Linked DNA regions of Homo sapiens. The protein of the gene in region 1 interacts with the protein of each later gene in a biochemical or structural test. Each region holds a gene or a part of one and is shown in the gene's direction. Other genes may lie near its edges.

Evidence for each region. Proteins that work in one complex are often made in the same cells at the same time.
Region 2: the proteins of CTDSPL2 (region 1) and KPNA4 interact in a test that uses a peptide from one of them, tested with the Homo sapiens proteins (one study listed by BioGRID).

Annotation. Positions count from the first base shown.
Region 1 is NC_000015.10:44,425,646-44,429,591, forward strand, and holds the start of CTDSPL2 (CTD small phosphatase-like protein 2), read left to right. Parts: upstream 1-1,983; 5' UTR 1,984-2,127; exon of another isoform or gene 2,128-2,248; intron 2,249-3,946. UniProt on the Homo sapiens protein: Probable phosphatase.
Region 2 is NC_000003.12:160,530,972-160,534,571, reverse strand, and holds part of KPNA4 (importin subunit alpha-3), read left to right. Parts: intron 1-3,014; coding exon 3,015-3,110; intron 3,111-3,600. UniProt on the Homo sapiens protein: Functions in nuclear protein import as an adapter protein for nuclear receptor KPNB1. Binds specifically and directly to substrates containing either a simple or bipartite NLS motif.

The DNA of each region.
Region 1 (3,946 bases):
AAATAAATAAATAAAATAAACTTTAGTAATAATGGGGTAACTGTTTAGTTGGTATTTTACTGCTTTCCATGATACACTCTGGATAAACTAATTATTTGTTGGATTCCATTGAACTTTTCAGGAATCTATTTTTGTGTGTGTGGACTGTTACTATTAATAGTTCTGTGCTGTGTATACCACCAGCTCCCAATAAATGTCGCATTCAGAGCATTTTTGCACTAGGAAGATTTAGGGTGCAAATGAACTCTGACAGAAGAATCTGTAGTATACAAGGTTTTCAGAAGACAACCCACCTGCTCCATACTTCGAAATAATGAGATTCACAACGGTATGTTATTTCTGCTTACTTCTCAGCCTCTCTTGCCATCTTCCCCCTGCCCTCCCATCCTCTTTTCTTAGCGCACAGAACTACTTCTCCAATGGCTCAACACAGTCTCATCTTTGGACTTTTCCGTCTGTTGTTTCCTTTACCCAGACACTCTTCCCCTGCAACACACACTCCTCCTTTTTGTCTCAGATGTTATCTTACGAAACCTTCCCAGACCCCCTCGCCGGCACTCTCATGTGTTTTACAACGCCTATCATGCCATCCTTGTATTCGCTTTATCAGTTTTTAAATTCTGTTTACTTGGGTGTCTTCTTCAATAGATTATGATCTTTGGCCGGGCGCGGTGGCTCACGCCTGTAATACCAGCACTTTGGGAGGCCGAAGCGGGCGGATCACGAGGTCAGGAGTACGAGACCAGCCTGACCAACGTGGTGAAACCCCGTCTCTACTAAAAATACAAAAATTAGCCGGTCGTGGTGGCGCGCGCCTGTAATCCCAGCTTCTCGGGGGGCTGAGGCAGAAGAATCGCTTGAACCCGGGAGGTGGAGGTTTGAGCCGAGATCGCGCCACTGCACTCCATCCTGGGCGACAGAGTGAAGACTCCGTCTCGAAAAAAAAAAAAAATCATTACCTTTGGGGAAGGCAGTATCCGTGTCTGCCTGGCTCACTGTTTTACCCGTCGCACCTAGTTATTTTTTCAATAAATATTTCTTGATTGAATAAGGAGAGTGGCTTGGAGTTTCAGTGAAAAATGTTCTTCCAAACACTAGGCTTGGTTTTCCGATACCCCACTAGAACTGGATTCTCTGGACTGATACATTTTCACTCTGTGGAGCTGACCGTCCTTTGACCTAGGGTCGCAGGTGGGAGCCCACTGGCCTGAAAGATCCGAGTTTTCAACCTGCAGAATCACCGCCAACATAGGGTTGAGTCGAAGGGCATGAATATTTATGATCCAAAAGCGACTGCTACGCCCTCTAGGCAATGAGCTGGAAAGGGAACCTTCAAGGGCCACCGAAATCCCAGGAAAGGCGCCAGATTCGCTTTCTCCCGGCCTCAGGCAGCTCTCCCTACGAACTACCTCCTCCAGCGCGCCAAGCCGTTAGTCCCGCCTTATCCCCTCAGCTCCACCTACCCAGCGCGCCCACAGTTACTAAACCCTAGCCGCCAGGGTGCACTACGCGTTCCTAAGCCCCGCCTCCGGGGCAAGGGCGCGCTCCCCCTCCCAGCTCTGCCCAAGCAGTTCCGTTAGGAGCGGGAGGAAAAACCGTCCTTCGGGTCCCCGCCTCTCCACTCCTAACGCTTTACTCCCTACTCCCCCTGCGACCACTACACAGCCGGCTACGGAGGCCCCTAATGTACAAATATCCCCCAGGCCCTTGCTCATCCTGATAGGTTTTGTCCTTTCTTAATCGACCCAGTACTAAGGCCTTGTGTTCAGTTTTTCTCCAGGATTCAGACTAGAGAGTTTCTTCCGGCGTAAGGAACTTCAACGCTCTTCACGGAAGTAAAAGTGTTTTTTTGGTTGTTGTTGCCGTTGTGGCTGCCCGCATTCCTTCCCTCCCACCTCGCGGAATTGTGGCGGGAGGGGGAGGAGGAAGTCAGGGCGCCTGCGCGGAGAGGCCGCTTTCCATCCGGGTCCCTGTCCGTGCGGTGCAGCAGGTCGGTAGGCGGGAAATGGCGACTGGCTGAAGGAGCTGGTTCTGTTGCTGCTGCGGGGTAAGCGGGAAAGACACCACACATTGCGCAGTCGGGACCATCGCCGGAGCCTGAGGACACTTCTCTGTCGTCACAGTTAGGTAATCCCCTTCGTCCAGACGCCGCCGCTGCTTCCAATCTCAGTCCTCCTCCTCTTCCAGGGCCGTCTGCCGGGATCTCCTCCCCTTCTAAACCTGGTCCTCCAGCGGCTCTGGCGCCTTGGTAGGCATGCACTCTTTGGCGCCTCGTACGTCCACTGTGCGGAGCCGCTCCTGTCTGGACTTTCCCCTGGGAACAGAAAGGGAGCTCACTTCCCGCCAGCTTCACCTCTTAGGTTGCGGCCTGCGTTGTGATTTCTGGGGTTAGATTTCACTTTGCTACCCACCCCCACTCCGATCTCAAGTTCCTAGTCCCCAACCTCTGGGTAATTAAGTTAGAAGTTTAGCTTTTTTTAACCTTTTTGGCCCACCTCATGTTTTCAGCATTTCATTCTTTGGAGTAGGGTGCTTTTAGGGGGGCGTTGCTCTTATCTCAGTTCTTATAAACACCTTTTCAGAATCTGGAAGAAGGGATTTGACTAAGTTCTGTTTATCTTTTGTACTGTTAAAATCTCGAGTTGACATTGTTACTTTTTCAAATCGGGAGTGGTAGTAAAGAACAGTCCATGTGGAAGGCGTCTGGTTTCCACAGTGGTCAGTTAAAGAGTGAACCTTATTATCCTTAATATTCTCTGCTTTCTTTGGATTTTAAATGTCTGTATGGGTGTTTACTTTTGCATTCTTGACCAGAGTTCTGTGGTAAATAATTGCATAAGTAAATCTTGTTTATTTACTTCTCACCCTAGTGGTGGCTGGATGTGTGAATGATGTTAAACACTTCAGCGTACCTTAGGGAAACCTAAAGAGATCTAAGAGCTCGTAAACTTACCTGAGATCCTGAAATGAAACGTACTCAGTAGATGTTCCTCCGAGGCAGGGATTTATCTTCCTAATGCTGGTAACGCAGTACCAAGATGAATTTCTTCAGTGGGTATACAAATTAGTGACTTGAAATGATGGATTTATCTGTGTAATTTTCAAATTGTAGATTGCTTTGTCTCCCCATTCTTCGCCCAGTTTTAAATTTTCGTTCCTGGTCCATTTTTTATTCTTAGAAAAGGGAAATGGCGTGTTAAAGCTAGTTTTACTATATTTCTTTACTTTTTCTTTCCTTTTTTTTAAATTACATTGCAGACCAATTGTTCATAAAGAGAAGTAATAAGGAGGCTGTTGGTGTTTTCGGAATTTATTAATCATGTTGAATTTGGGATCTTTGTAGGTTTTTTTGTTTTCACTAATCAAATTAAAATTTTAAAAACTGTTCACATTGAATATCAGTTGATATTTATAACTCAGGTTTTCAGTTCTGGATAGGTCCAGTTTAGAGAATTTCACTATTGTTTGCACGATGTTATGGTTAATTTTCAATAATAAACAGGAACACACAAACATTATTATAATCCTCATTTGGTAGACTTTGCCCAAGGTCATAAAGAAAGTCAAGGCAAAAGGTAGCTCTTATGTGAAGGAGTTTTTTAGGATTAAGTTGAGCTTCATACTTTCCTAAGGCGAATAGAATAGTGGAGGTACAGGCACGTTAACTACTTGCCGAGTCAGTTTATTTAAAAAATGGAGCCAAATATGCAACTTAAAGGGATCTTAAATCATTGGTCTAGTGTGTAGGTTTTGTCTGTATTTTAATGACCTTTTTGGGTAGTTAATAGCGTTAATGTTTTTAATAAAAATTAGTTTGCAGCTAGCTGAGTGAGCATTGTAGACCTTGTTTTCAAGAGTTCTCCTAAATTGTTTAGTACTACGTGCATTCAGTACTTGCACTCTTTTAATGCTTTCTCAGAGTTGAAAGAACGTATAAGCTGGCTGG
Region 2 (3,600 bases), on another chromosome or scaffold:
TAATTTTTGTATTTTTAGTAGAGACAGGGTTTCACCATCTTGGCCAGGCTGGTCTTGAACTCCTGACCTTGTGATCCACCTGCCTCAGCCTCCCAAAGTGCTGGGATTACAGGCGTGAACCACCATACCCTGCCTGTTTTGCACATTTCTATTGTAAAACCTATGCTCTCATATTTTAAGGGAAGAGGCAGAAAAATCTATTACTGAGACCTTTGTATTAATAAATAGGTTGGGGAAGACATGGTTGTATCATAATGCAATTTAGTGGTTGCTTTGTATATTTATGAATATAAGAATAACACCCTATGTTGAGTTTATCAGTAGGAAAGAGACAAGTAAGAAACTGATCCTAGTTACAGAATTTGAAAGTGGAAAAAGTTTGTAGGTCTATCCAATACCTTATCCAGTGCTGCACGAATCTGTTTTATATTTATTAGACTTTTCCAGTATTTGTTTATTCACCTTAAATAACTTAGAACTGATAGGGAAGTTATAAAATTACAGTATTGTGTACCAGAGGTAAAAGAACTTCTTAGAGAGGAATTCTTTATGTAGGCAGAAAAATCTCAGAACCATTCACATTGCAAAATAGCAAATTAATGTTTATAGGAAGAATGATTAAGAAATCGATTATGCTCACCATTGTCAGAGTTGAATATTGGATAGTTTTGGGACAGTTCTTCTCAACATGCAATCTGCAAGAAAATTAAAGCCCAGTGTACCCTAAGAGGTTTTCAAAGTATGATCTGTGGATCACTGGGAGATTCCAAGACAATTTCATGGGTATGCAAGAGCAAACTGATTTTCAAAATAATTCTAAGACTTCATTTGCCTTTTTTTCACTGTGTTAATGTTTACACTGGTATTGCAAAGCAACTGTGAGTAAAATTGCGGGCTCCTTAATGCAAATCAAGACAGTGGCACCAAACTGGTTTTATATTATATTTTGTAAAAATTATATTATTCACCATTATGTAAAGAATAAAAGACATTTCTCTTCTAAAATATCCTCAGTGAAGTGTAAAAAAAATTTTTTAAATTAAATTTTGACCCTTGATCTCATGAAACCTTGTTTGAGAAGGCTGGGTTAAGACTTCTTCGAAGTGGTTTTTTTTTTTTTTTTAAATTTCCACTTAATGCTAAGCACTGTGCCATGTGTTGAGGAAATAGCATGTGGTATAATTCTTTCTCTTTAAGAACTTTATAAGCTAATTGGAAAGGCAAAACTGTATTTTAAAAAATAGGGGGCTGGGCGCGGTGGCTTAACGCCTGTAATCCCAGCAGTTTGGGACGCCGAGGCCAGGGGATCACTTGAGGTCAGGAGTTTGAGACCAGCCTGGCCAGCATGGTGAAACCCCCGTCTCTACTAAAAATATAAAAGTTGGCTGGGTGTAGTGTCACATGCCTGTAATCCCAGCTACTTGGGAGGCTGAGGTGGGAGAATTGCTCGAACCTGGGAAGCAGAGGTTGTAGTGAGCCAAGGTGGCACCACTGCACTCCAGCCTGAGTGACAGACTGAGACCCTGTCTCAAAAAAAATAAGTAGTGATAGCACCAAACGTAGGGCTATGCTGTATAAATCCTCTTGAAATTCAAAGATGGTGTTATGTAAAACATAGAACTTGAAATGGACTTTGAATAGAGTTTGAATACATAGAAGACCGGGCATTTCAAGTGAGGGGTTTAGGATAGGTTCAGTCTTATTTCAGTTGAAATGCTGTGACAGACAACTAACCTATTGTTTAGTTACACAGAATAAGATTAGTTATAAGATGGAGCCAACTTGTGAAGTAGTTTAAAGCTAGGTCAAGGAGTTTACATTGATAAAGGTAGTAAATAAGCAGCCATCACATAGTTTATATAGGGAAATGATTTGGTTAAGCTTTCATAAACATTGCTTTTATATAGTAATACAGGGTGTTCCAGTGGGTAAAGATATGATTAGGCCACACTGAGGACTTATCAGCTAAACCTGTAGTCTCCCACATGTGAAAATAGACACTAGGTTTTGTTTTTATCTTATAAGCTCCATGAGAGCAGTGATGTGTCTGTCTTTTTTACCTCAGATTCTCTAGCATCTCTCTGGCTGTTTTCCTATCAGTTGCTGTGCTTATTCCATTTCTCTTTAGTTGCTGAGATGAAAATGTTGTTGAACTTTTATGGCCTTAAATTTGGTGTGTAAAGTAGAAGGAAGAATTAGGGACTAATATCAGCTATAACATATTTCAGCAGACTACCTGCTTTTGTCATTTGACTCTCTTGTGACCTAGTGTGAATAATTTTGGATATTTTGGTGACCTCTTAATTCCTTTCTTAGCAAGGTAAAAGCTGTGTTGAAGAAATCTGCCCATTTTTTTCTCTGAACTCAAAATTATGTCCAAAAGTAACATGTATTTTTTAAAAATTAGTTTTCTTTTTATAAGTCACAATCAGGACTTTACTGAGGGAATAATAATGTTGTACCATTAAAAGTAGTAAAGTGGCCAGGCTCCGTGGCTCACGCCGGTAATCCCAGCACTTTGGGAGGCCAAGACGGGTGGATCACCTGAAGTCAGGAGTTCAAGACCAGCCTGGCAAACATGAGGAAACTCCGTCTCTACTAAAAATACAAAAATAGCTGGGTGTGGTGGCGCACGCCTGTAATCCCAGCTACTCAGGAGACTGAGGCAGGAGAATCACTGGAACCCAGAAGGCAGAGCTTGCAGTGAGCCAAGACTGTGCCACTGCACTCTAGCCTGGGCAACAGAGTGAGACTCCATCTCAAAAAAAAAAAGGTAGTAAAGTGGTTCATATCTACATTCTTATTTTTCTAATTATTTGTCATCTCTATAAATTTAATTTGTATATCTTTTTATAAATTTAGAGAAAAGGTTGCATTATATAAATTGTTAATTTCAGAGAAGGCACTTGTACCAAATATTCAGATTTATGTTAATATTTGTCAAATATGAATTTATATTTAATCATAATATTGTATGTTATTAAGTTTCACAGGAGTGTTTTTATCTCTTACAGGAAGCTTTTGTCCAGTGATCGAAATCCACCAATTGATGACTTAATAAAATCTGGAATATTGCCCATTTTAGTCCATTGTCTTGAAAGAGATGACAAGTGAGTACATTATTTATTTTTTTTTTTTTAATTTAGAATGTATCCTTTGGAGAAGACAAGACTCTAGTAATTAGTTTGATCTTTAAAGAAAGAAGAAAAGGGCTATGGGATGGAGTTGAAAAGTCAAAGTGAAAAGCAGTGCAAGGTTTGTTAACACCAAGAGATGAAGGTAGTAGCCAAAAAAGGAACTTGAGAATGATAAATTTAACTTTTATGCTTTGAAAATTGGCAAGAACTAGTTTGACCAGATAGGTACTTGAGAAAACTGTTTGGGGAGTAGTATGCAAGTATCTTAAAAAAGATTTCTTACTAAAAATCAGGATGCTGGAGGAGGTTGTATGCTTTTTATACTGAAGAGATGTTTTAAACAGTTGTTGAGGGTTAAAAAAATATGCTGGATGGATAGATAACTTTTGAAACAAAATATTTAATGCATTTTAAATGGTAGAAGGAAGAATGGTTAGATATTTGGCCCAATGTAAAAATCCCT